Regions from separate parts of the Homo sapiens genome. Here all the other regions are reported to be linked to region 2. Evidence: microRNA targets listed by miRTarBase, many of them from high-throughput screens and not tested one by one. Region 2 holds a microRNA gene; each other region holds the end of a gene's coding sequence. Distances are between the middles of the regions.
The links. The annotated mature microRNA hsa-miR-942-5p reads UCUUCUCUGUUUUGGCCAUGUG and lies in region 2 at 1,672-1,693, opposite strand. An mRNA with a match to its seed (bases 2 to 7 or 8) in the 3' UTR can be bound and repressed. Matches are read on the target gene's strand: a 7mer-m8 pairs with bases 2 to 8, a 7mer-A1 pairs with bases 2 to 7 and ends in A, and an 8mer does both.

Region 1 (4,836 bases), not on the chromosome of region 2:
GGTGGTGTGTAGGCAGAGCAACAACATTGGGCATGGAGTCCAAAGACCCAAGTTCATATCCCAGCTCTGAGCTGCTTACTCCTGAGTAGCTACTGAAAGACGTTTGAGCCTCTGTTTTTTCAACTTCAGGGAAATATTTGACTTGCCTGTTTCACTCATGTGCTGTGACTCCCTGGGGAGGAGAGGAGAAACTTCCAGAAAATATGACATGAATAAAAGGTTATTGAGATGTTACTTGGATGACTTCCTCAAATGACAAGTATGTTGATGACACAGGGGAAAATAAAAGCAGCCAGCTTTTCAGCACACTCATTCTGACCTTATATAATTTAACTGGTTGCAATTGCCCCAGATTTGTTCCAACCTTAGAAGAGATTAAATGTATGGATTTGTGGTATCACATGTCATCCCAGCCAATCCTGACCCATATTTCTGTCCATCTGGTTCATGCAACAACAGTACAAAGAGGTGTTATAACCTTAATTGCTTGCAAAGTCTTTTGAAATCCTTAGATTAAAACCTCGGTGAAGTCCGAAGTATTAGCATCCTGAATGCCCAAGAAGTCACGCTGAGCCTTGTCTGGGTTCACTGGAGCAGGCAACAAGGTCTGTTGTGAGGCCTGCTTCAGGAACTTTGGGGTTTAAAGTCCTATTCATGGGATGGCCAGAGACCAACCCCCAACTTCTGAGTTCCTAAGCTACCCAGGCATTTGGCCATTTCCCACGTTGCTTCTGAGATGACTTTTACATTTCTTAAGTTCCTGGGTCACAAGGCCTGAGTTGCTCTAACTTCAGTGTCTGCTTTCCTGGCCAATCCCAGCCTGAGTCCTAAAAAAGGGTAATTGTGTCATCACTAACTTCTGTCTGCCTCTTCGTATGAGTCCAGAGTTGATGAATTGGTCCTCATCCTAACTTATACAGGTTAGAATTAAAATCCCATCCCATGGTGGTTACGCTTAGAGCAGGCACCAGGCAAAAATTGAAAAGGGCAGGCAGAGGTTCCTGAGGCCCTCCCAGTGTTTTGCTTTCTAGATCTATTGGTTATGCCTGTGTGTTGTTTGTGAAAATTTACTGAGCTACACACTTATATGTGCATTTTTCTGTTGTTACATTTTACAATGTGAAGTATTTTTAAAAATCAATCTGGATACAAATTTACTTCATTTAGACTAGATTCTGAAGTGAAGCTATAAATAGTTAAGCTATAAACAATAAAAAACTCTTTTCCTTTCTCTACTTTTGTGATTCAAATTAATGTCACCTTAGTATTTTCCTTGCTTTTATTTCCATTTTCACACTTATGGAAAGAAAAAAGTAAAAGAAAGAAAATGCCTTGCTTGGCCGGGCGCAGTGGCTCACGCCTGTAATCCCAGCACTTTGGGAGGCCAAGGTGGGTGGATCATGAGGTTGGGAGTTCAAGACCAGCCTGGCCAATATGGTGAAACCCCGTTTCTACTAAAAATACAAAAATTAACCGGGCATGGTGTCGGGCGCCTGTAGTCCCAGCTACTCAGGAGGCTGAGGCAGGAGAATCACTTGAACCTGGGAGACAGAGGTTGCAGTGAGCCGAGATTGCGCCACTGCACTCCAGCCTGGGCGACAGAGCAAGACTCCGTCTCAAAAAATAAGAGAAGAAAAAAAAGAAAATGGTTTGCTTAGCCATTTTAATTAAGTCTAATGAAGAGGGATTGGTTCACAATCGGAAGTCCCATGATGCCTTCAGAGATCTGTGTGAACCTCTGCAATGATAACAAAATTTTGTTTTATACATGTGACACTGTTCTCAGGAGTGGTCATAGCTTTATCAAATTCTCAAGGGTCCACGGCCCAAAAAAGACAAGCTGATTTTTACAACTCAAGGTTAATTTATGAATGCTCACCTTCAAACGTTTCTTGATTCTGATTCTGCTATGAAAGAGTATAAAAAATAAAAAATGTTTCCCGAGTCTAAATTCAACCCAAAGCACGTATCAACACCCAATGGGCTTCATCCATCAAAATAAATTTGCCCACTGAAATGAGAAAAGCAAATGGGTTCAAGTCTGCCAAAGGTCATCGATGATCCTCATCATCTCTACTTTTCCACCTTCCCCTTGCTGCTCACCCCCAACTAGACTGTAAGTCCTGAGGCCAGAGACCTTTGCAACCTCTGCATGAAATTGCAAAAGGCAAAGCAGATGGAACTCGAAAGAAATTCACCACACCTATTTACGAAACCAGGTTTATTAAAATTTCTCTACAAGTCAGAAACGGCCATCTCACTGTTCACATATATACACGTATGTACAGGAAGAACCTAGTGTTTCTAGCTTTCCCGGCAGAAGGCCCTGCCAGCCCAGAGTCCTTAGTCGGATAATGTATCACAGATACAACAGTCGAGCAACCACGAGAGCGTTAGTGCGACAGAGGCCTCTGTCCTCCCTCTTCTCAAAGTCCCATGATTCTGTCAAGGTAATATTGCCAATAATCATTCACATTTCACGTGGTTTTAGACACGCAGGTTATTCAGACAGACACAGACAACAAAACAAGCCTCAAAGCCAGAACAAAACAAAACAAAACAAAATCGAACATAGGTATAAAAGGTAAAATATATGTACAAAGTACACAGTACGTGAGGTATACACGGCATTCTCACAATGCATGTTAGTAGTTTGCCTAGGCATAGCCCTTAAAGATGACTGCCTGTTTTTGTGCCATTTCTCAAAATACAGTATATTTTGTTTACCCGTTTAACCACCTGATTTCAGCACTGTCCAAGACAGTTACTGATATTTCATCTGAATTTGTTTTTTAATGAAAGTTGCAATTTCTCCATTAAGCTCCATCTTTTGTAGGGGAGTGAGTTTCCATCTCTGGACATATCTAACAGAGGCTGGATTCCCACCTACAAAAGAAGCTGAAGAGGGGATTTCTGCCTTGGGAGGTGGCAGAAAGAGGAAAGAGATTGGACCGGATGATTTTTAAAGTTCCTTCCAACTTTGAAGATTTGGGGTTTGCTGTTTCACTCCAGAAGCCGATTATACAGACGTATTCATAAACCACACATTTGAAATATTAACAACCCACCATGCAAAACTGCAGATGTACACACAATGCCAAAGGCGGACCATATCTGGGAGGGGTTAAAGTATAATTCTGGAAGTTAGTCTGAGAATCACAAGACTATCCAAAATTCACTCTCTTCAAAGCACAAAGATGTTTAATGTCTGCTCTTGGGAGAGGTGGGTGGGAGCCTCCTTATCTTTCTTCTCTTAGACAGAATGCTCCACCCTGAGATGGTCTTGGGGAAAAAGTAAAGGGTAGGTACTAACATATTTGGAAGGAACTTAAAAAGCTAATAGTTTCCAAGCACTCAAATTATTTTTTAAAATCTGGAGTCTCTCTGAGCTCAGAGTTCTGAAATCGTTGGGAGATGGAATCTTTTGTGATACTGTTCCACGTTCGGCTGGTAAGTGCTTTTATAGCTAAAGGGGGAAGTGTCAAGGTCAGGGAGAAGGCATTAGTGCAGATGAGGTCTTGGCAGGAAACAGAGAAGAGTCTCGGTTCATGGTTCCATCAGGCTCCTGAGCAACTTAAAACAGTCTGCTCCAAAAACGGAGCAGAGTCATTGGTAAATGTGAGTGTGAAGAAAGGGTGAGTGTTAAGCCAAAAAAGGAACTTTCCCATCAGAGAAGCTGCCGTAGCAGTCTAGCCACCAAAGATGAGTTCAAAGATGGCAGATTTATTGGCCCAATTTGTCACCCTGTGAAAAATACGGTTATTACTCAAAATATGTCATTGTGCGATTTGCTTTTTCTCCCATTCGAATGCTCAAGTTTATTACACACTTGACCACCGGGTGTAAGATGTCCATACTCTGCCCTCCACAAAAGATGCGGAACTCCCAAATCCAGCAGAGATAGTTGGTGAGGGTTCCTTAAGGGAAACAAATTTGCAGGGCAGCCAATCACAGCATATGCTGCTCAAATCAATAAAGTCACTCATCCCAACAGAGAAGAGGAGGCGCCATGCCGAGTTCAGCAGCTTTCATCCTGATGCAGTCATTATCTGGTTGGTACCACGCCAAAGGGCCTGTCCATCTTTAGAAATGGAAATGCCAGGTGTTAAGAATTATGAGGTTTCTGAGGTTTTGGGGATTAGCAGAAGAAGGAACTAATGTCACTGTCCTCCTGGTACTCTGGAACAATCTGGTCTGAAGTTCCTATTTCTGAGTCGATGTACCCGGGTTCCAAGACGGACTCAAACCAGGGGTGCAGTAGGATCTCGGGGGCAGTGAGTCTCTCGGAGGGCTCCCGTCTCAAGAGGCTGCGAATGAGGCACCTGGCTTTGGGGGAAATGTGCTCAGGAATGCAGAACTGTCCACGCCGAATTTTGGAGAAAAGGGCACTGGGGTCTGAGTCATGGAAGGGGTATCGTCCAACCAGAAGGGTGTAGAGCATCACCCCCAGGCTCCAAACGTCCGCAGCCTTTCCGGAGTAGGTCCCAGTGGTGTTGAGGATCTCAGGGCTCACGTAGGCTGGGCAGCCATGTTTGTCTGACAAAGCATCATCTTCCCCCTTCATTATGTGTGTGTCTTCTAGACTTTCTAGTCTAAGCTGGGTTCTGCAAGAGAGAGGAACCAAGCCATTATTTCCACACCAGCTGCTATGAAAAACAAAGCCTTCCCAATAACAGCGCCCACAGGCACTAACAGCAAAGGCTCCAGGAATGCTATTTACCCCTTCGTCCAGTAAGCAGTGCCCTGCAACTACCGAGGGCTCCTGATTTCACAAACTAACACGAACTGCAATAAATGTTTGCAAAGTATCGGCAGAGCGCCTGGGGTGGAGGGTAT
Region 2 (4,836 bases):
ATAACTCAGAACAGTTAATTATGCGGCTCTGATGTGACCAGCTTGTACCTGAGGGCCTCTGGAGTGGTTAAATGCCTCTACCAAGTCCATTCTCTGCTTGGGATTGACAGAGCCATCGATGGTGGCATAAGTCAGTCCATGCTTCTTCAGGTGCAATGCTACAACTTTCAGCATGTTGGTCCACTGAGAGACAATGACACTGGAAAGAAGAATAAAATAAAAAAATACCCTAACATAGATTAAACAGACTCATCTGCAGGGCTTTAATGCCCTCATCATTCTTAAGGTTAGCTATCAAATGTTGACAAGGAAAGGCCTTCTGCTACCTAAGGGAGAAGGCACACATTTAGGTCATATCTGAAGATTATAATGCTTCCAGTTATTTCTAGGTCCTTTCTACAATTTATTTAGTGCTAAATGAAGTCAGAAAAAAATGGTAGCTAGAGTAAAGTGATGACTCCAGCCTTCTTTCATTTGGGGTCCTAGTGCTCATCCAGAAATCTGTGGTCCTGCACAAAAGGGACACACTGACCACCCTTCTTGTGCCAGCCAGAACAACAGGCTCCTCCCTGCCCCCACGCTGTCTTAATTCGAGTTCTAAATTTTTATATTGAATTATTTTATAAATAATGCAGGTGTATAGCACATATGTCAGGTATAACAAATGAGTCCTTGTATCCAAGTACTCAGCTTAAGAACGTTATCAGCACTGCTGGAGCCTCCTCACTCGCTTGCTTTTCTTTATATGCTTCTCTACTTTTAAACACTTTTTCAGATGCTTCGCTTACCCTGATCCTCTAGGGATCTCCTTTTCAATTTGTACCACAAATATTTTAATTAGAAATCACAGGGAATGTGTGCTATAACCTCAGTGCTTTCTGCTGAGCATGACTCACAGTCCTTGATTTATAACTCTTGGCAATATCAAATTTTCTCACATAATTATGACCAATACTTGGATAATGAGAAAACGCAGTTACCTCTTTTGGGATGCTGAATTTCTTTGAATTGCCTCCAATTCTGCCAACAGAGATGAAATCTGGGAAAAGGTTACATCAACATTGTATGTTTAAGCAATTCACTTTTCTCCATCTCCCCTCACCTGCCATGCGAAGCAGCCTCCTACATGGCGTCTGTGCTCTGGCCTCACCTGTCTTTATTCCACCCTCCTCTCTGCAGCCAGAAAGCTCTTTCTAAAATGTGAGTTTGTCACTTCACCCCTCTGGCTAAAGCCCTTCCATAGCTTCCCACTGAGGATAAAGGCCAAGCTCCTCAAGGCAGCTTGCCGGATTCTTGCTGCTCCAGCCTCTGCTTCTCTGGGTTCGTTTCTCACCATGCCCTCCTCAAACGACACAGCAAGCACACCAAAATTCTTCCCATAAATCACACACTGGCCATCTTGTCCATTCTGCTCCCTCTGCCTAGAACACCCTTTTGTGTCAGCTTAATGTCACTTCTTCTTGGAGGTCCTCCCAACCCCCAAAGTACAGGTTAGGTGCCCACTGCCCAAGTACTATCATAGCACCTTTTGTTTCTATTATCACGGTCCTTGTCATACTGTATATTAATTGCTTATTATCTCTTGCTTCCAGGACTTGAGACACTCCAAGGAGGCAAATATTAGGAAAGTAACTTCTCTGTTTCGGCCATGTGTGAGGGGCTGTGAGTACACACATGGCCAAAACAGAGAAGATACTCTCCTAATGTTTGCTGAAGAAGAAAGTGAAAGAGCTTTACCCACTTTATGGCCTGCTCCAAATGTTGTTGAAAAGGACCTGTCCAGACGGAGGAACCATTGTTAAAGCTTCCGAACAGGCTCCCTGGGTATTCCCCAAGAACCCTTAGGGTGCACTTGAGTCCACAGGGGAGCTGTCAGTAAGAACACGTGGGGCATGACTTTGGAGTGCAGCTGGGCTCATTCTTCCCAGCTGCTCATGTGAAAAACCTTTCAAGAGCCTCTAAGGGCCCCAGAGTTCACCCCCAGAATGCTGGAGAAGGAAGAAAACTGGGCTGTAAGTCAATCAGGAGACAAATATACAGAAGTTCTTCCTCTGTCCTCATATGGCTGGACCACTTTGGGACTCAGATTCCTCATCAGTGAAAAGAAGGACTTAGGCCAGATAAATTCTGAGGTGCCCTGAGCTCCCACATTCTAGGATGTCATTACAGTGGTCACCACATGGGGCTGCTTTCCAATCTTAACAAACATTCTGGTGCCTAGGCAGGAAGTGAGTCACAGAACTGTACCATTCAAATTAGCAGACAGAAAAGCAGCTACATCTGTTATTTAGTTAACAATAGAACAGAGACACTGATGTGCCTGGTGTCTTGGCAACTTGAGATTGTGGAAGGCGCTGTGACTCCCACATGAAAAAGCTAGCCATGGTGTTTTGAGAAAACTGCAGCAGGAGGGCTGGATTTATGGCCCACGAGCCGGGGTCAAATTCCAGTAAGAAGCCTCCTTCCCTACTTGAAACAACCGTATGTGGTTTGAACTATTAATGGACATATGTTAAGAAAACTTGTGAATAAATATTACCTGCATTTAATTAAACAAGGAACACAAATGATTAGGAATTTAAATTTTAGCCCAATAGCTCACTCTGAAGGCACTAGCATGTGTGTTCTGGCCACATGGGATGCTCTTCTTATGTTTCTCTCAGCTATCAGTGGTAAAGACCTAGGTAAATGTTTTCAAATTTTAATTAAAAGGCAGCATTCCTTTTAAAAAATAATGCCATTCCCCTGGAAGTGACCTTTCTAGTTATTAATACACTTTTTCAAAAAAAGCCTTTGAAGAGAGGTTGAGCCCAAGAACGGCAGCTTGAGATGCTAAGAGAGAAACAAGCCTCACTTTCAAGACAGGCAGGATGATGAAGCACATTCCGAGCCAGCAGACAGGCAGGATTCAGGTTACGGCATATCTAAGCCTTCCTCCAGCAGAATGTTTCTGCCTTAAAAAGCTCTGACGAAAACAGAGCAGAATGACTAATGAAGACAGAAGGCTATGTAGGAAACACTACTCACATGTGGAAGCCTTTCAAAGTCAGAGCAATTGGCGCTCGCATGTATGACACAGTCTCTAGAGTCAAGCCTTTGTTTTCCTTTTAAGCTTTCTCTAAACAAATTGCTCACTTGCATAGGCCCCGTCCCTAGCACAAACCTGGCAAGCTCCCCAGTGACCCATGACAGAAAACCCACTTCAGTGCAATGCTGGGGTTGTCCCAAATTACTCTCTCAAAGTCCCCTATGTAGTAAGGCTTTAGTGTTATCTGTGAAATAAATGAAGCTTTAAGACTGGAGGGAGAATCTGATCAGCTAGAATTTAACGGCTCTAGCTCTGCTGGCAAATGGCTGTTCCCACTTGGACAAATGAAGTGCTGTCACACAGGAAAATGTGTGAGGAATCGAAGTCTCTCGACTACTACAGAGGAGACAAAAAGTACCTTGGTGCTCTCTCGCATGCCTTCAAAAAGCTCCATCTTGAAGAAGGTGCCGTTAAGGGAAACAGTGGAAGATGGCTCTGAGTCACGGAGTTCTGACAAGGTCAAAGCACTGAGCTGTTCTTCCAGGGAAAGGACAAGACCTTCACCCTTCAGTTCCATTGGATCCAGGGCCTGAACAGACAAAAAAGGACAGGAGCAGCTGGGAGTCAAGGGAGCAAACCTTGTTACTTGTTGATGATGTTTTGATTGTTTACCACTTCACAGAGCAAAATATCTTGTAATTTGTCATCAGTAACTCCTCAAGACACCTTGATTAAAGTGTGATCTTGCAAGTTTTTTCACCACATTAAAGATAAACCAAATGATGGAACTTTTTAAAGACTTGCCAGGCAGATGACATAATCATTCTATTTTTTCCAAGCTAGAATATAATTGAGATGTTGATAATCAGAATACATTATTACAGCTCCTTAAATGAATAGAATACTCCTCTTAATTTTGGATGTGCCTCTATCCAAGGTAGGGGCAACTTTTCAGTCTGTATAACTATCTGAGTTTTTATAACTGGAACCCAAAACCCCAAAACTGCCTGAAAGCAGAAAACCCCAAGAACTAAATTAGCTTTATGACATTCTGAAGTACCAGAGCATTCACAAATGGCTTCTTTTTAAACAAAATATCATTTTCTTTTCTTAAACAGTTAATCTAAAACAAAATAAACAATAGAAATACACTATTCTTGATGCCATAGGAATTATCAAGATTAATATGAAATAAAGCAAAATAAATAAGCCCCCTTTTCTCCAACCCACCAAAAAACAAAAATAGAAAAACCGAAACAGCATTTCCTTTGATCAAGCAGACTGGATTCCAGTTGGAGGAGAGTGAAATTGACTTCTCAGGTGGCCCCTCTGGAGCACTATATGACAGCAGGCTGAGGGCTTTTCTTACCGACTTCAGTAAAGAAAGATGACAGCAACACTGGCGGAGTCTCAGCAACTGGGACAGTATGTGGACGGTGCTGGATCTCGGTGAGTCTGCTGCCTCCGAGTGTCTAGGCTCCTCAGACCCAAACTCCAGTGCCACTTCCAAGAGGGAAGACAAGCCACAGGATGGTACAGGATTTAAAAGAGAAATACGGAGAGAGCCAGGAACTACATGGGGCTACTTTAACCATGTTTGATCTCAGACTCAATAATATAGTTACAACTCACTTCTATAGGCCACTTCAATTAGGCCAAATGAAATATCGGTTTTTCCTTATAGAACTACCTGCATTTTAATAAAGCAGATTTAGGAAACAATTAAAAAGAAGCTAAATAAACACCAGATCTCGTGTTTGCAATCAGTAGATTTTACTCTGGTTTGAGGGTCTTAGTTAACGCCAAAT
Region 3 (4,000 bases), 72 Mb from region 2:
ATCAATGATGTGCTCTGGGCTTGTGCTCTCAGCCACTCTCTGGGCAAGAATGAGCTGGCAGCTCTCATCCCCCTGGTGGTGAAGAGTGTGCACTGTGCCACAGTGCTTTCAGACATCTTACGACGCTGCACAGTGACTGCACCTGGCCTGGCCGGCATCCCAGGCCGCCGAAGCTCTGGAAAGCTCATGTCCACTGACAAAGCTCCATTGCGCCAGTTGCTGGATGCCACCATCAATGCCTATATCAACACTACACACTCACGCCTAACACACATCAGCCCTCGCCACTATGGAGAGTTCATTGAGTTTCTAAGCAAGGCTCGGGAGACCTTCCTGCTGCCCCAGGATGGCCACCTGCAGTTTGCCCAGTTCATCGACAACCTCAAACAGATCTACAAAGGCAAGAAAAAGTTGATGCTGCTGGTGCGAGAGCGCTTTGGCTGAGAGAGCAGATAGCTCACTGCCAGAGCAGCCTGGGTTCCCAGGTAGTATCAGGTCAGGCCAAGGGCACTGAAACATTTGTCCACCCTGAGAGAACTCTGAGCACCTGTGGATGAGGCCAAAGGACCACAGGGCTAAGGATGGGGAAAGTCCAGCTCTAGTCGATAATGCCTACCTTGGCAAGCTTCTGACTACAGCCTACTGTTCATGGAGGAGCTGGGCCCTGCAGATCGACCAGAAACCCCACAACATGCCACCTCATGCCCCTATATCCTGCGTGTCCTGAGCATTGGCCCTGTCTCCCTTGGCAAACACAGAACACTGTTCCATCTCAGGGATTGCTTAACCAGAGAAACAGACACATTTGTGGGACTGTAAATACTATATGTGTTGCTAATTATTGTAAACTTGTAACTATTTATAATTCTGCTTCTGATTTGATGGGCACTTGAAGTAGCTGTGGGTAGGAGGATATGCTTATTTTCTGAGGAGACTCACAACCATTTCTCAGGTTTCCCTTGCAGAGTGTTTGCTGGTAGCAGTGGAAGAGTGGGGGTGCCAAGGAGAAAAATGGCCAGTTAGGATCAACCCAAGTCTAGTCTATGCAGAATCCCCCACCTACAGACAGGGCATTTATAGTCCAGTGGTGAGTGAGGGACAGAGGCCAGGACTGGACTTAGACTTTTGCCTCACAAAACTGTGAGGACATTGAAGCTCCTGCCTCACACAGCCTCTTCAGGAGCCTGCTGAACACCTGAGAAACAAGTGCAGGGAGAAGATGAAGGTCTGGGAAGCCGCTGAGTTCATAATATTCATCTACTGTGGTCACCTTTGTGTTAGCAAGTGTGTGGTTTCATCTATAATTGTGTGTGTGTATCTTTATGGCTAAGTACATGTGTGTATGTACATAGATACATCTGTGCATGCCTGTTTGTGCACATATATATTTATGTGTATGTGTCAGTTCTATGGCTGTGTACCTGTTTGAATATGTGCACACTGGACTGTGAGTTTCTACGTGAGGATATACACATTTTGTGTACATGTGAGGATGCACATCTTTGTGCAAATGCACTCATGTTTGTGCATGTTTAGTATGTGTATCTGCGTACACGAGTGCATGTGTATAAACATGTTTGTATCCATGTGTATGCTTGTTATCCATGCATCTGTGTCTTTATATGTGTAACTGAGCGTATTTCTACATGTAGGGATGTCTGTGTATTCATGTTTGAGGATCTGCATCAATGTGTCCTTTTTGCCAGATTTCTCTTTCCCATTCCTCTTAAATCTCTCTCGCCAGCTAAACGTTTGTTCCCCATCTCTGTGCCTCCTCTATTCATTCTCTCACCAAACAAGCTTCTAAGCACCAATCTCCCTCTGCCATCAGATTGGCTGCTTTAGCTCCATAGTTCTCTTCTCGCCTCATACTTGCTTTCTTCCCCTGCCTTTCTACCTCAAGCTTCCTCGCCGGCTTTTGTCACAGTCTCATTGCTCGCTGACTTGGAGGCTAGGGCTGGTCTGCACTTAGCCTCTCCCTTCCTAATTTCTAGCCCTAGTGGGCAGTCCTGTCTTAGCCCTGGCTGACCTCCATAGTGTATCATGTTCCTGCTACCTTCCTGACCCCTGTGCTCAGCCTGGAATTGTTATAGGAGGTAGCAAGGGCACTCAGAAAAGTCAGTTGGAACCAGTGTCTTGGTGTTTACTGTTTCATGTCTTAGTTCCTGAGTTGGGGGTGGGGTTTGATAGGGAAGGGGTGGTATAGCTAGAATGTGAACTAAGAACTTCTCCATCTGCTTTACTTTTTCTTTCTTCGACAAACTGTCACCTTTTTTACTCCAAACTGACCAAGAAGTTGTATTTGCCATTTGTGGCTACTCAAGTCTTACTGTCCAGCCAAGGGCCCCTACGTCTCAGCCCAATGGGTTGGTTAAAAAAAAGAGAGAAGCCACTCTCATTTCTGTATCACAGTTGCCCTTTTTTAGCAAGTGTGTGAATTCACAGTGCTTTTCTATGAATAAATCATGGATCACATAAAAGATCATTTTTCTAAAAGCAGAAATTGTGTTCTCTCACTAAATGAAACCCATCTCTCCTTTCTGCATTGCCCTGGCTGGGCCAGGGAGCTGGTTCAGCCTACAGCACAGTGGGTGCCTAGTGGTCTAAGGAGATGCAGAATGACTGACAGATAAAGAATTTCTTGCCATACCAGACCCTTCCCCAGGGCTTACAGACACCTCAGAGCCTTGTCCTGGGAAGCAGGTACCACCAGGAAGGGTGGAATAACCAAGATCTTGAGAAAATTAAAGGGGATGCTCAGAAAAGAATATAAAGCAACCTTGAGTTGCCAGAGGGTCTTTTGGTTTCAGAGGACTTCTTGCTTTGGTGATGATCGACTTGTCTAAAGCTCCAATCCTAAGCAACCTAGCTCTGAGCTTTCATGTCCTCTATATATTTTGGTGTCAAAGCTGAGGGTCCCTCAGCTTCTCCCTGCTTGCCTAGACTCCATCTTCTTCCCCATGCCTCTCTGAAGTGTTCTAACCCCTTCTGTGCCCCTTTTTGATGTATACTTCCCTTTCTCCCCAGACATAAAGCCCTATCAATTTGGCCTTTGTATGTTGTGAGGACCCCACCCGTTTTTCTGCAAATGTCACAACCTGAACTGCTAGGAAAGCTCTACCCTACCCCATGTAGTTCTGGGACTTAGGTATCTGAGAGTAAGATGGGAATGAGAATCCTTAAGTGCTATAGTACATATTCACTGATACCTAACCCCCATGACTTGTGAAGAGGATATAGAGAGGGTTCCCAGGGAAGGAGCAGAGGCTAAGAAGAACTGAGGATATGGGCACAATCTTTCACAAACAAAACTACACAATAGTTCAACTCCGAAACTTTTATTGTCCTGGAAACGATCAATCATCTGTGTTAGTGGTACTTGAGGGTAAAGGTATACACTCAGTTCTGTCGAAGCAGACGTGAGTGTTTATGCACAGCATCCACAAAGGCGCCCACATGTTCTGGGTCCATGTCAGGATAAAGCCCATGGCCCAGGTTGGCAATGTAGCGATGTGGTCCAAAGTCATCCAGCATCTGCTTCACCAACTGCCCGATCTCCTCCTGGGGGACCAACAGGGCACTGGCTACAGGAGGACCAGCAAGCCTTTGTCCTCCCTATATATACTAGTGACAAACGCATATGTAGGCATGCTTCTACTCAGTGTTATTCAGTCATTCAATAAAATTTATCAGATCCCTAGTATGGACCCAGGCATGAAGCATAAACACAAATGAACAACAGCAACAAAAAGTCCGGTCTTTCTAGGGCTTATGTTGTACAGAGTAGAAGAAAAGGACAGACAGACATTAAAAACAAGTGCACACAGAATAATACAGCCACAGCCACAGGAGTGCACAGTAACAGACACACAGAGGGGCCCTGGCTGTTACCTCAGATGCATACAAGGCACAGGGGTCCAGGTTGCCCTGCAATGTCACCGTCTTCCCCACACACTCCCTGGAAGCAAAGCCAGCGCCACGTTCTGGTAACTGCATACAT
Region 4 (4,836 bases), not on the chromosome of region 2:
CGGTCCCCTGCAGGTGTTGTTCTGAAGGGTGCAGTTCCTCTCAATGGGGCAGCTTTTTTCTCACAGGCAGCTTCAGACGTCAGGCCCCATCTCCCTCCCTGCGGCTTTCCTGCTGGGCAGGAGCGCAGTGCAAGGCTGGCCCCAGGCCTCTGACTGCTTGCAGGAAGATAGGGGCACGTGTCTTGGGTGGTGTGGAGGCCTGGCCAGTGGTTACATGCATGGTGTTGGGGAGGCTCAGGTCTGTGGCTGGCCGGCCCCAGTTGTGCCACCTGCTGCCCTGTTGCCTGTTGCCCTGCCCCATGAGGACCGGCTCCTTCACGGCCAGTTCTTCATCTGAAAAGCGGAGGTGCTGCCACTGCCTCCCGTGGTGGTTGTGAGCACCCCAGGCATGTGTGCGCCCCCATGGCGGGGCAGCTCGTGGCCATGTGTGGGTGTTGGGCCTGTGTGATGCTGGCATGAAAGGTGCCCCGTTCCCTGGAATTTCCCGCTGCTTTCTTCCTCTAGAATGCATGTGAATTGGGAACAGGTTCCTTCTTATGTTGTTCAGCAGCATAAATCATACAGAAAGCAGGGTCCTGCCGGCACAGACTGCACCAGGAGCGAGTTCTCCTCTTCCAAGTTATCTGAGAACAAAGTTAGGACACGCGGTGAGGGTGGGGGAGGGGCCGGGGCTCCACACCTGAAAGTCCCTCAGGTCCGTGCTGGGTGGCTTTTTCCGTAACTCTGCACACGAAGCTCACGTGGACCAGAAAAACAAGGTGGTCACGACCCCAGCCTTCATGTGCGAGACGGCACTCCACTACATCCATGATGGGATCGGAGCCATGGTGAGGAAGGTGCTGGAACTCACTGGAAAGTGACGCGCATGGACGGGGCCCAGCTAGGCGCCAGGACTTGGCCTCACCCTCTGGCTGAGGAGCTGTCGGCTGCTTTCCATCCAGCTGGGAGTCTGGCAGGCCCTTTTTTTTTTTTCTTTGCCGAAACCTGCAGGCGTTCTCTCTCTAAGGAGGATGTGCTGCAGTGCATGGGGGATGTTTCTTCCTGGGTGTGGCTGGGCTGCTCTCACATACAGAGGCCGAGGGGCCAATTCGTTCTCTGCCACAGGGACTTGCCTCACTGTGTCCCAAAAACAAATCGCAGCCAGCTTTTCCAGAAATAGAAAATTCTGCCGTCTGAGGTTTTATACTTCAGGTTAGTTAGTTTTTGGAAGGAAGAACATTTTTAGGTTTGCAAGCCTCCTGATCAGGAAACCAGAAATACCACATTTATGGACCATGAAAGGTTGGTTCTTGACTCTGAAGGGACTTTTGAGTTAATCAGCGTAAGGGGATTTCTAAAGCAGGCAATCCCTGTAGCCGCAGAGAATAAACGCCTTCCCAAAATGGCAACTTCCCACAGCCACATTTCAGACCTGCTGAGACTGCTGAGTGAGGAATGGCAGTGAGGTTTCTTCAATTAGTCTCAGTTCTCTTAATTTTCAGGAAGAAAGGGAAATTGCAGCCCCTCAGCCCCCAGGATTGACCTCTGGGGAGTGATGGTAGCGTTGGTGCCAGGCCGTGGGTTCAGGTGTGGCAGAAGCTTGCAGATGCGTCCGAAGGGAAATAAAGTGTGTTGGCGTTAGACTTTGTGCTGCATTCATCTGTGTGTTCAGGGTTGTTTGGGGAAGAAAACATTTGGGGTGGGAGTCAGGTGTCTGCACGCTTCACTCAGTGTCACATATCTGTTGCTGTTTGGGTCTGTCTCTGCCTGAGCAGCCAGGGCCAGGCCAGCCTGAGAGGCCCCACGCTGGGTGGGTGGCAGGAGCTGCCCAGTGTTGGGTGGCGGTGTGGGAAACGCCCACTCTGGCTGCTGGCGTGGCTGTTCCGTGTGGTCTGGTTTGCACCTCCCTGTGTGTCAGGTGCTGGGCCCGGAATGGGGGTGCAGGCCCTGGTCCCACAAGACTCGAACCCTCAATTGCACTGGTACCCACCACACCCCCTCGGCCCTCCCCACCCACTGCATGGAATCAGCGGATTCATTCTACCGCCTTGAGAGGGCGTGGGGGGCCCATGGGTAAGGCAGGAAGGCCCCGGTGCACCCTGCATCGGGTCTCAGCCGGACACTTCTGGTTCTTCCTCCGTGGGAGCTGGGTTCTCCAGTGGCCTTCCTCCCACGGAGGCCGGGCCTCAGGAAGTCCTCACGGGCGCCCACGCCCGCTGCAAACGCCCACAGCACTCGCCTTGGGGCCAGGATTACCCTGTCCCCAGCAGCGGAGGAGCCTCCCATGTCCAGGGTAAGGTGGGGCTCCTCCCCTTTCTCATAGGCTGGTAGGGACACATTTTGCATGGCTGGAGGGGGGGTACCCGTATACCACGCATGTTTATTCACGTGTGTGTGAGTGTATGGAAAAGTGCACAAGTCACAAGCATTCACTTTGGGGTTTCCACAAAGCAAATACGCAAAACCATCGCTCGGGCCTGGAACGGTGGCACTGTCCCCAGAGCCTCTCAGCCTCCTGCAGGCACTGGCTGCGTGCTTGTTTGCGCGCTCTCTCTGAGGTGATCCAGTGTGGCGCCCCACACGCAGGTGCTTCTGCTGGGCCAGGCCTGTCCTCACCTGCATCTGCCCTTAGCCCAGGTGGCCCTGTGGGTCCTCAGTGTCCCCACTTGCAGATGAGGCTTTGCTCCCCCCAGGGCCCTGCAGCTTGTAGGGCTTGGCTGGGACTCAGCTCCGGGCAGCGCAGCACCAGAACCCCAGCCCTAGAAATAGATCTTGGGACGTTGGGAAGCCCAGAGAGGGGCCGTGACAGAACCGGAGAGCTTGGTCCTGGGTTCACTGCAGGAGAGTTTGGTCCTGGGTTCACTGGACAGTGACTCCGTGGCTGCTGCGTGCCAGGCACCTTCAGGTACCAAGGGCATTGTCACGAGCATGCCCTCGTCCTGGAGTTCAGGTGGGGGCAGCCAGTATGTGGCCCGGTGAGCCATGGAGTCCCCCTGGCAGTGGTGGGGGTGTGGACATGCTGGGAAGGAGGATGGCAGTGCCAGGCATGCATAAAGTGATCAAGGAAGGGGACAAGGGGTCCAGTGGGAACAGGAGCTAACCAGGGGTTCAAGGTCAGGGCGTGGGGAGGGAGGGGCGCTGGTGACATGCATGGTTCCCGGGACCAGCCCGTCCTGCCATCCCAGAGGCCTCTGCATCCCACAGGCTGTGCACCCTGGAACGTGGTTGTGGCTTTAGGTGCTGCCACCAGGGGGCGTGGCAGAACTGTCTTTGGGGCTGACCACGGGCAGGCGGCCCCTCACCAAGCTGCTTCCTGTTGGTGCCATCAGAGTCTGGGCTATCCTCTCCTGAAGCCCTCTCTGGTCTCCACATGCCCCACCCCTTTGCCCTGTCCCTCTTGTTTCCTTCCAGGGTACCTCCTCACCTCCTGTCCAGGTCACCAGAGCTTCACCTGTGGACATGCCCCATTCCCTGATAATCCTTTCTTCATTCTCCATTTCTCCACCACTCCCAGCTCCCCCAGCACTCCCAGCTGCTCCACACTCAGTCCCCTGCTCCACACTCAGCCCCCAGCTCCCCCACCATTCCCAGCTGCTCCACACTCAGCCCCCAGCACCCCCACCACTCCCAGCTCCTCCACACTCAACCCCCAGCACCCCCACCACTCCCAGCTGCTCCACACTCAACCCCCAGCTCCCCCACCACTCCCAGCTCCTCCACACTCAACCCCCAGCACCCCTACCACTCCCAGCTCCTCCACACTCAACCCCCAACCCCCCCACCACTCCCAGCTGCTTCTCCATTCCCACCTGTTCTTCCTTCCTGGTGTTCTTCTCCCCAGACCTGGTCTGACTGTCCCTCCCAGTCCCTCATTACCTGGGGATGGACGTCTTCCGCTCTGACCTCCAGGCTCTCTTGAAGGCTGCTCCTTCCCTTTCTCCCCCTGAGCTCCTTGCTGTCTCAGACCCCTGCCCAAGGAGGCCTGTAACTCCAGCCCTTCTCTGTGCACTACACTTGGAGTGGGGTACCGCCCACTCAGCATATCCAGACTGGGCCCCCCACGCGTACTTCTTCCTGTCTCTGTCTTGGGGGCCATCATGTGCCCAGATCCCCATGAGAAACTGGTCCCAGCCACCTGTTTCTCCCTGCCCCTCCCTCTGCCGCCAGCTATGGGTTTTGCCTCCAAATATGTCCAAGCCACCCCCTTCCTCTCCTGTGCCTAGACCGGGTTCATGCCTACTCCCCACATCTGGTCCTGACACCTTCCATCCCTCCCTCCTGGGACGACCAGCCCCCCTCTTTGTATTACTGGCTCCCCTTGTCTCTCGGCTCTCAGCATCACTCTGCAGAGAGGACTTCCCAGCACGCCCTGGCTGAGGAGGGGTCCCTGGGCCACTCGCTGCACAGATCTCGAGGTCTGTGAGTACACATGTATCACAGCTTTGTCATCTGTCTCCCCACTGCACTGGGAGTGTCAGGAGAGAGGATGGGGGCCTCATGGGTGCCCTCCACCTTCCCCGGCCAGGCCCGGGCTCTGAGGTGGTGGGCTCTGGGCATGAGCAGGCCAGTGCGTGCTGCGAGGCCCAAGGCTCACGGACCTGACACGCCCACCTTGGTGCCCGCCCTCTCCCAGGCCCCTCCCACCTACTGCTGGCCAGCGTCTTCCTCTAGGGCTCCCTCAACATCACCTTTTCTGTTTTGTTTTAAATAGACTTTATTTTCTAGTGCAGTCTTAGCTTCATGGCAAAATGGAGCAGAAGGTACAGAGAGTCCCACACACTCCCTGCCCCCACGCATGCACGGCCTCCCTCACCATCACCCCCGCACACCCCCGCCCGCCAGAGCACACATTTATTA
Region 5 (4,836 bases), not on the chromosome of region 2:
AATATGTTCTATATAGTGTGTGTATACATAGATATATCTCCTGCTGCATCTGCTTAAAAAGGGAAATTGACATGGTTTTAGGCATCCCTAGCACAATTCCTGAAGCAGAGAGTCACGACTACAAAATGATAATAATGGCTAGCCTGTGTGGAAAGCTTGCTATGTGCCAGACACTAAATGATTTACAGGGATTTTTTCATTTAACCCTTGTTACCAGGGCTGGGACCAGGGTGGGGCAATGAGATATCGGAGCACAAAAGTGAAGGAGGGCCGGGCACAGTGGCTCACGTCTGTAATCCCAGCACTTTCGGAAGCCGAGACAGGTGGATCACTTGAGTCCAGGAGTTCAAGACCAGCCTGGCCAACGTGGTGAAACCCTGTCTCTACCAAAAGTACAAAAAATTAGCCAGGCACCATGGCACACACCTGTAGTCCCAGCTACTAGGGTGGCTGAGGCAAGATAATTGCTTGAACCCAGGAGGCAGAGGTTGCAGTGAGCCAAGATCAAGCCACTGCACTCCAGCCTGGGCAACAGAGCGAGACTGCATCTCAAAAAAAAAAAAAAAAAAAAAAAAAAAACAAATGAAGGAGACAGCCACCTGCGGGGCTATGGAAGTGCAGGGTTGACACCTGCATGCCCCTGCCAGCGAGTGCCTCCTTCGGTTCTGCACCCTAAGTGCCTCACTCACCTTAACCTAGTCCCAGACTTGCTGGCAACAATCCTGTAAGGTCAGTGTCGTCAACTTTCTTCTTTGCAGATGAGGAAGCAGAAGCTTTTAGAGGCTGAGTATCTTGCTTCATGGAGCAAGGATTTGATGCCAGGACATTGGGCTCTAAAGCCTTGGGCCTTGACTGACTGTACCAGACTCCAGTGTTGGTTGTTTTTGTCTCCCTTTCCAGGTGTCCAAGGCAGCTGCAGATTTGATGGCCTACTGTGAAGCACATGCCAAGGAAGACCCCCTCCTGACCCCTGTTCCGGCTTCAGAAAACCCGTTTAGGGAGAAGAAGTTTTTCTGTGCCATCCTTTAAGTCTTTGAGAGGGGCCTGAAGAGCCTCCGGGCTCCTGGGACATTGATGTAGAGTTTTTAGTGAAGTGGGCACCTTTCTAGTCCACGGCATTTGAAGAGAGCGAGGAGAACCATTCTGGAAACTCTAGGCTATGCATGTTTAAAGATCTGGTCCCCTTTATGAGAATGCAAGCCGATCCACATCCTGACTTAAGAGATCTGATTCTGACGAACTGCCTGGAGGAGGGGAATATATAAAAATAAAATTGGTGTCACTTCTTTTCTGCTATCCCCCAGCCCCCCCCCCAAAATCCTCATGTTTCTGCTTCATATTTTGAAAAATAACAATTAAAACAGACAGCTGTACTGAGGTAAGATATGTGTGACCTTCTTGGAATGAATATTGTCTTTAGAATACCCTTTGATAAGCTGAGCTGTCCCGTGTAGATGCAATTCGGTTTAATGGCATTGATGTATAGTCACTGTGCCTTTCTTTTTCTTTCTTCCTTCTCCTCTACCCCTCCTTCCACCCCTCCCCATTAGAGTAGTGTGGAGATAAGGCTGGACTGGTCTATCAGATTGAACTCCAAGAATGATCACACAAAATGTTTAGGGAGATGTTCCCCGTGGTGTATCCTCATGGTAACAACGACAAAAAATGCCGGTTGTCTGTGTTCTCTTTTCACTATTCCTAACATGTGTACATGATAGCTTTGATTCTGCAAGTAAAAGTAAATCCTGTGTTGTGACTGGTGCTTTCATATATTTGTGACAATTTTTGAGTAATATTGCATGAAAATGTCCCTATGTTACATCCATTCAGAAGTTTTGTTGTTTTACTCTAAAGCTGGGAAAGGAAATGAGAGGGAAAAGACCCCGGAGAGGGAAGAAAATCTCAGTATTTTGAAAATTGAGATTACTTCAGAGCCTTAGCCACACCTAAAATACCTCCTAGTTAATAGTGGTATAAATGCCTCTTCAATACGTTTTCCAGAATCCAAAGCATTTTGGTTTATCCAGGACCCAGGGCAGCACAGCTGTCACCAAGCAGGAGAGTTAAGGATTCACCATGAGCTGGGAAATGCTTTTGCCATGAGTATGAGCAAATTCCCTCTTTCCCTGAATCATGGACATTCTAGATTAAAAGAACATTTTTTTGTGCTCTTAACAAGAAAACCATGGCCCTCCTTTGTTCAAGTATCAGAAGAAATAAACCCACAGCTCCAGAGAAGGTGACCATTCTCAGAACTCCAGCTATTCACTCTCCAGGGAGAAGGACCTCAAATCGCCACTCTTTGGGCGGCAGGTGCGGTCCCCACGGCCGGCTCTACGAGGAAGAGTTCTGGCTCTTTTGTCCACTGAGATGGTCTTGGTTTTTCACTTAACAAATTTTTTAATGGAATCTTTGTTTTTGTTCTCCATCTTGTTTGTTAGAGTCTCTCGGCCTTTATTTACAAATTCCTTGCAACTAGAGCGCTCCTTCCCCAAGATATGGTAGTGAGAGTAATTTTTCATTGTAGCTGTAGTCTCCATCAGTAACAGCAGGCCCTGGAAGACTTGATCACCTTTTTCTGTGTCATTTTCAGTCAAAGAGGGCCTCTCTTACATCTTGTTTGCTTTCAAATCCCCAAATATCATCTCCATCTCCCAATTAATTTTATTGTCTCTTTCCTCTCTATTCGCTTTCTCCTGTTTTTTTTTTAAAAAAAAAGCATGAAAAAGGAAGAGAAAAAGTTTGATATGCCAAGGACAGATTTTGAAACAGACTTGGTAAATGTTTTCCTTAGCTCCTTCATGGGCATGCTGGTGAAAGAATAAATACATCCAATTAAAGCTCATGCTGGGGTCGGGGAGAAGAGGATACTGAAACATTTGTGAAATGTATGAATGCACTTCTGTAACCAGATACTTCTGTTCTTCTGTTCAAATTGTGGGGTTTTTGTTACAGTTAGGACGCCCATGAAGATTTAGGGGTGAAAAAAACAGCAGAGTATTTATTAAACTACAGCATTGTACAATTAGCTTAGTAACACTATGGAATAAGCTAAAACATATCACAGTTTTTACATGGGCCAAAACATGAATTGAGTATGTGGTCACATGAAAACACGGATGAATGAATAAAACACTCTTTGGTGGTGACTGAGGCATCATTAGAAGGCCCAGACGATTTCCACTATTCACAGCATTTCCTTTTCTCAGAAGGACTCTTTATATTTCCATGTAAATCTAGATCTTTGGAGCAATTAAGATGGAATTACAATTTCTAGGGAGCATTTTAAGGAAAATGTTTTGGCTTTTTCATAATTTTATGTCTTACAGTATGGAATTATAATACGAAAATCTTTATATGAGTTTTGGCTTCTTGGTATTTGTACTTATTCAGGGGAAAAAGTCTTTCGATTACTTATGCCTCTATAGAGCTTAATTTCTTGAGAAATTCAACAGTCATTTTCACCAGCATAATTTTATCTTAAGGAATAACTAATAGGAAAAGTCAGCTTAATTATTTAAGGCCCTAGTTTCTACATATAATATATTCGATAGAAATGAAAATCTGCCGTGGAATTAACTAATAAGTAGTAACAATAAACTTCATATTTAGAATGCAAAGTCTATAAAGAATAATTTTACATGATCCTCAATATCAACTCCAGTTTAAAAAGTGTTATTTTTAAAACATTTGAAACCAAGTACTGTTTAATTTCAATCAGAAGATGCAAATACATACTTTGATCTATGTTTGATTTTGCTAATAATATTTGAAGGAGATTGCCTACCAAGGACAAAACAATAAATTTAAAAATCAAACGATTTCTCCATACGCTCATAGTCACATATGGAATTTTGAGAAAATAAAGCATGCTGTCTTTAGGAATTTTTATACTTCTTTGTCTTTCTTCCTTAATATTTGCTTCTAGCTGCTCTTGGCAATGATGAATTGTTATGTATGCATTAATGTTTTGCAGCCCAAAAGTTGTTCACATTTTTCCTATATAAGATCTGTGGAGTGTGTGTTTCAAAGAGAGAACTACAGAAATGTTAAAGCAGGAAAACCTGAATGTGATGTGCACATTTTCATCCCACATGGACAATGTATGTGTTTTAATAAATGGAATTTTCAGATTCATTTCATATGCAGTCAATTTCATTGTGACGGCCACTGATTCTGTGGTCAATTTGAGAAGGATCTGATGGTATGAATGGATGAGGAAATAGGAATCCATTGATTTTCTTTAGGATTTTGTTAATAGAGATGTCCGAAAGAAGAAAAAACTCACTTGACACTCTAAAAGCATTTCTTACTAGGTCTGTACATCTTGGGTACAGCCTTTGGGGACAGAGAAAGGTGGGGGCTGTGAGGAGAGCCCAGGGCTCTGATAGGGTGGAGTATGCAGACAGAGGAGCTGTATTTACACTTTCACTTGCTGCAGGTATGCCACAGTGGGCTTTTTCCCTTATGAAAAATAAAGACTGAACAACAGAAGTGCTGTTCTCTGTAGCTATCTGTGATTTAAAAGGAGTACAGGAGAAGCTAAGTCCTTAGAACTCTAGATGCAGCTGCTCCTTGGAGATCTTCTTAGTCGAGAAAGACTTCTGAATGTTCCTCAGATTATGCCAGTAACAGACCCTGTTAGTAAAGAAGGAAACACTGGATCTCCTGGGACTTGTGCCAGCAACAGCAGCATCTTTAAACCACGGATGAAGGGGGCCACTTGGAGTTTGCACACTAGTGCTCCACTGACATCAGTGTTTCTCAGACTGTGGTCCATGGACCACTTGCTCCAGGAGTATTAATACCTGGAATGCCTCTTTACAAAGCGGATCC

Region 1: miRTarBase lists TRIB1 as a target of hsa-miR-942-5p. Seed matches in the 3' UTR shown: 8mer at 3,247-3,254 and 7mer-A1 at 2,422-2,428.
Region 3: miRTarBase lists ZSWIM5 as a target of hsa-miR-942-5p. Seed matches in the 3' UTR shown: 7mer-A1 at 1,214-1,220 and 7mer-m8 at 2,383-2,389.
Region 4: the mRNA of GATD3 is a reported target of hsa-miR-942-5p. The part of its 3' UTR that is shown has no 7-base or 8-base seed match.
Region 5: the mRNA of GNG2 is a reported target of hsa-miR-942-5p. Seed matches in the 3' UTR shown: 7mer-m8 at 2,233-2,239 and 7mer-A1 at 2,859-2,865.

Annotation. Positions count from the first base shown.
Region 1 is chr8:125,435,774-125,440,609 of GRCh38, reverse strand. TRIB1 (tribbles pseudokinase 1) reads right to left here. Exons shown (of 3, transcript NM_025195.4): 3 at 2,207-4,604. The coding sequence ends at 4,139. Among named protein-coding and RNA genes, the nearest start is that of TRIB1, 7.8 kb to the right of the region's middle.
Region 2 is chr1:117,091,512-117,096,347 of GRCh38, reverse strand. It overlaps MIR942 (microRNA 942), which reads right to left and starts at 1,705; the gene lies at 1,620-1,705. TTF2 (transcription termination factor 2) reads right to left here. Exons shown (of 23, transcript NM_003594.4): 17 at 4,398-4,531; 18 at 3,447-3,617; 19 at 981-1,039; 20 at 49-199.
Region 3 is chr1:45,014,898-45,018,897 of GRCh38, reverse strand. ZSWIM5 (zinc finger SWIM-type containing 5) reads left to right here. Exons shown (of 14, transcript NM_020883.2): 14 at 1-2,499. The coding sequence ends at 444. It overlaps UROD (uroporphyrinogen decarboxylase), which reads right to left. Exons shown (of 10, transcript NM_000374.5): 9 at 3,892-3,958; 10 at 3,323-3,561. The coding sequence ends at 3,400. Among named protein-coding and RNA genes, the nearest start is that of UROD, 4.6 kb to the right of the region's middle.
Region 4 is chr21:44,144,090-44,148,925 of GRCh38, forward strand. It overlaps GATD3 (glutamine amidotransferase class 1 domain containing 3), which reads left to right. Exons shown (of 7, transcript NM_004649.8): 7 at 732-1,622. The coding sequence ends at 860. Among named protein-coding and RNA genes, the nearest start is that of GATD3, 13 kb to the left of the region's middle. RefSeq lists an enhancer at 2,114-2,773.
Region 5 is chr14:51,965,659-51,970,494 of GRCh38, forward strand. It overlaps GNG2 (G protein subunit gamma 2), which reads left to right. Exons shown (of 4, transcript NM_053064.5): 4 at 901-4,137. The coding sequence ends at 1,029. Among named protein-coding and RNA genes, the nearest start is that of RTRAF, 21 kb to the right of the region's middle.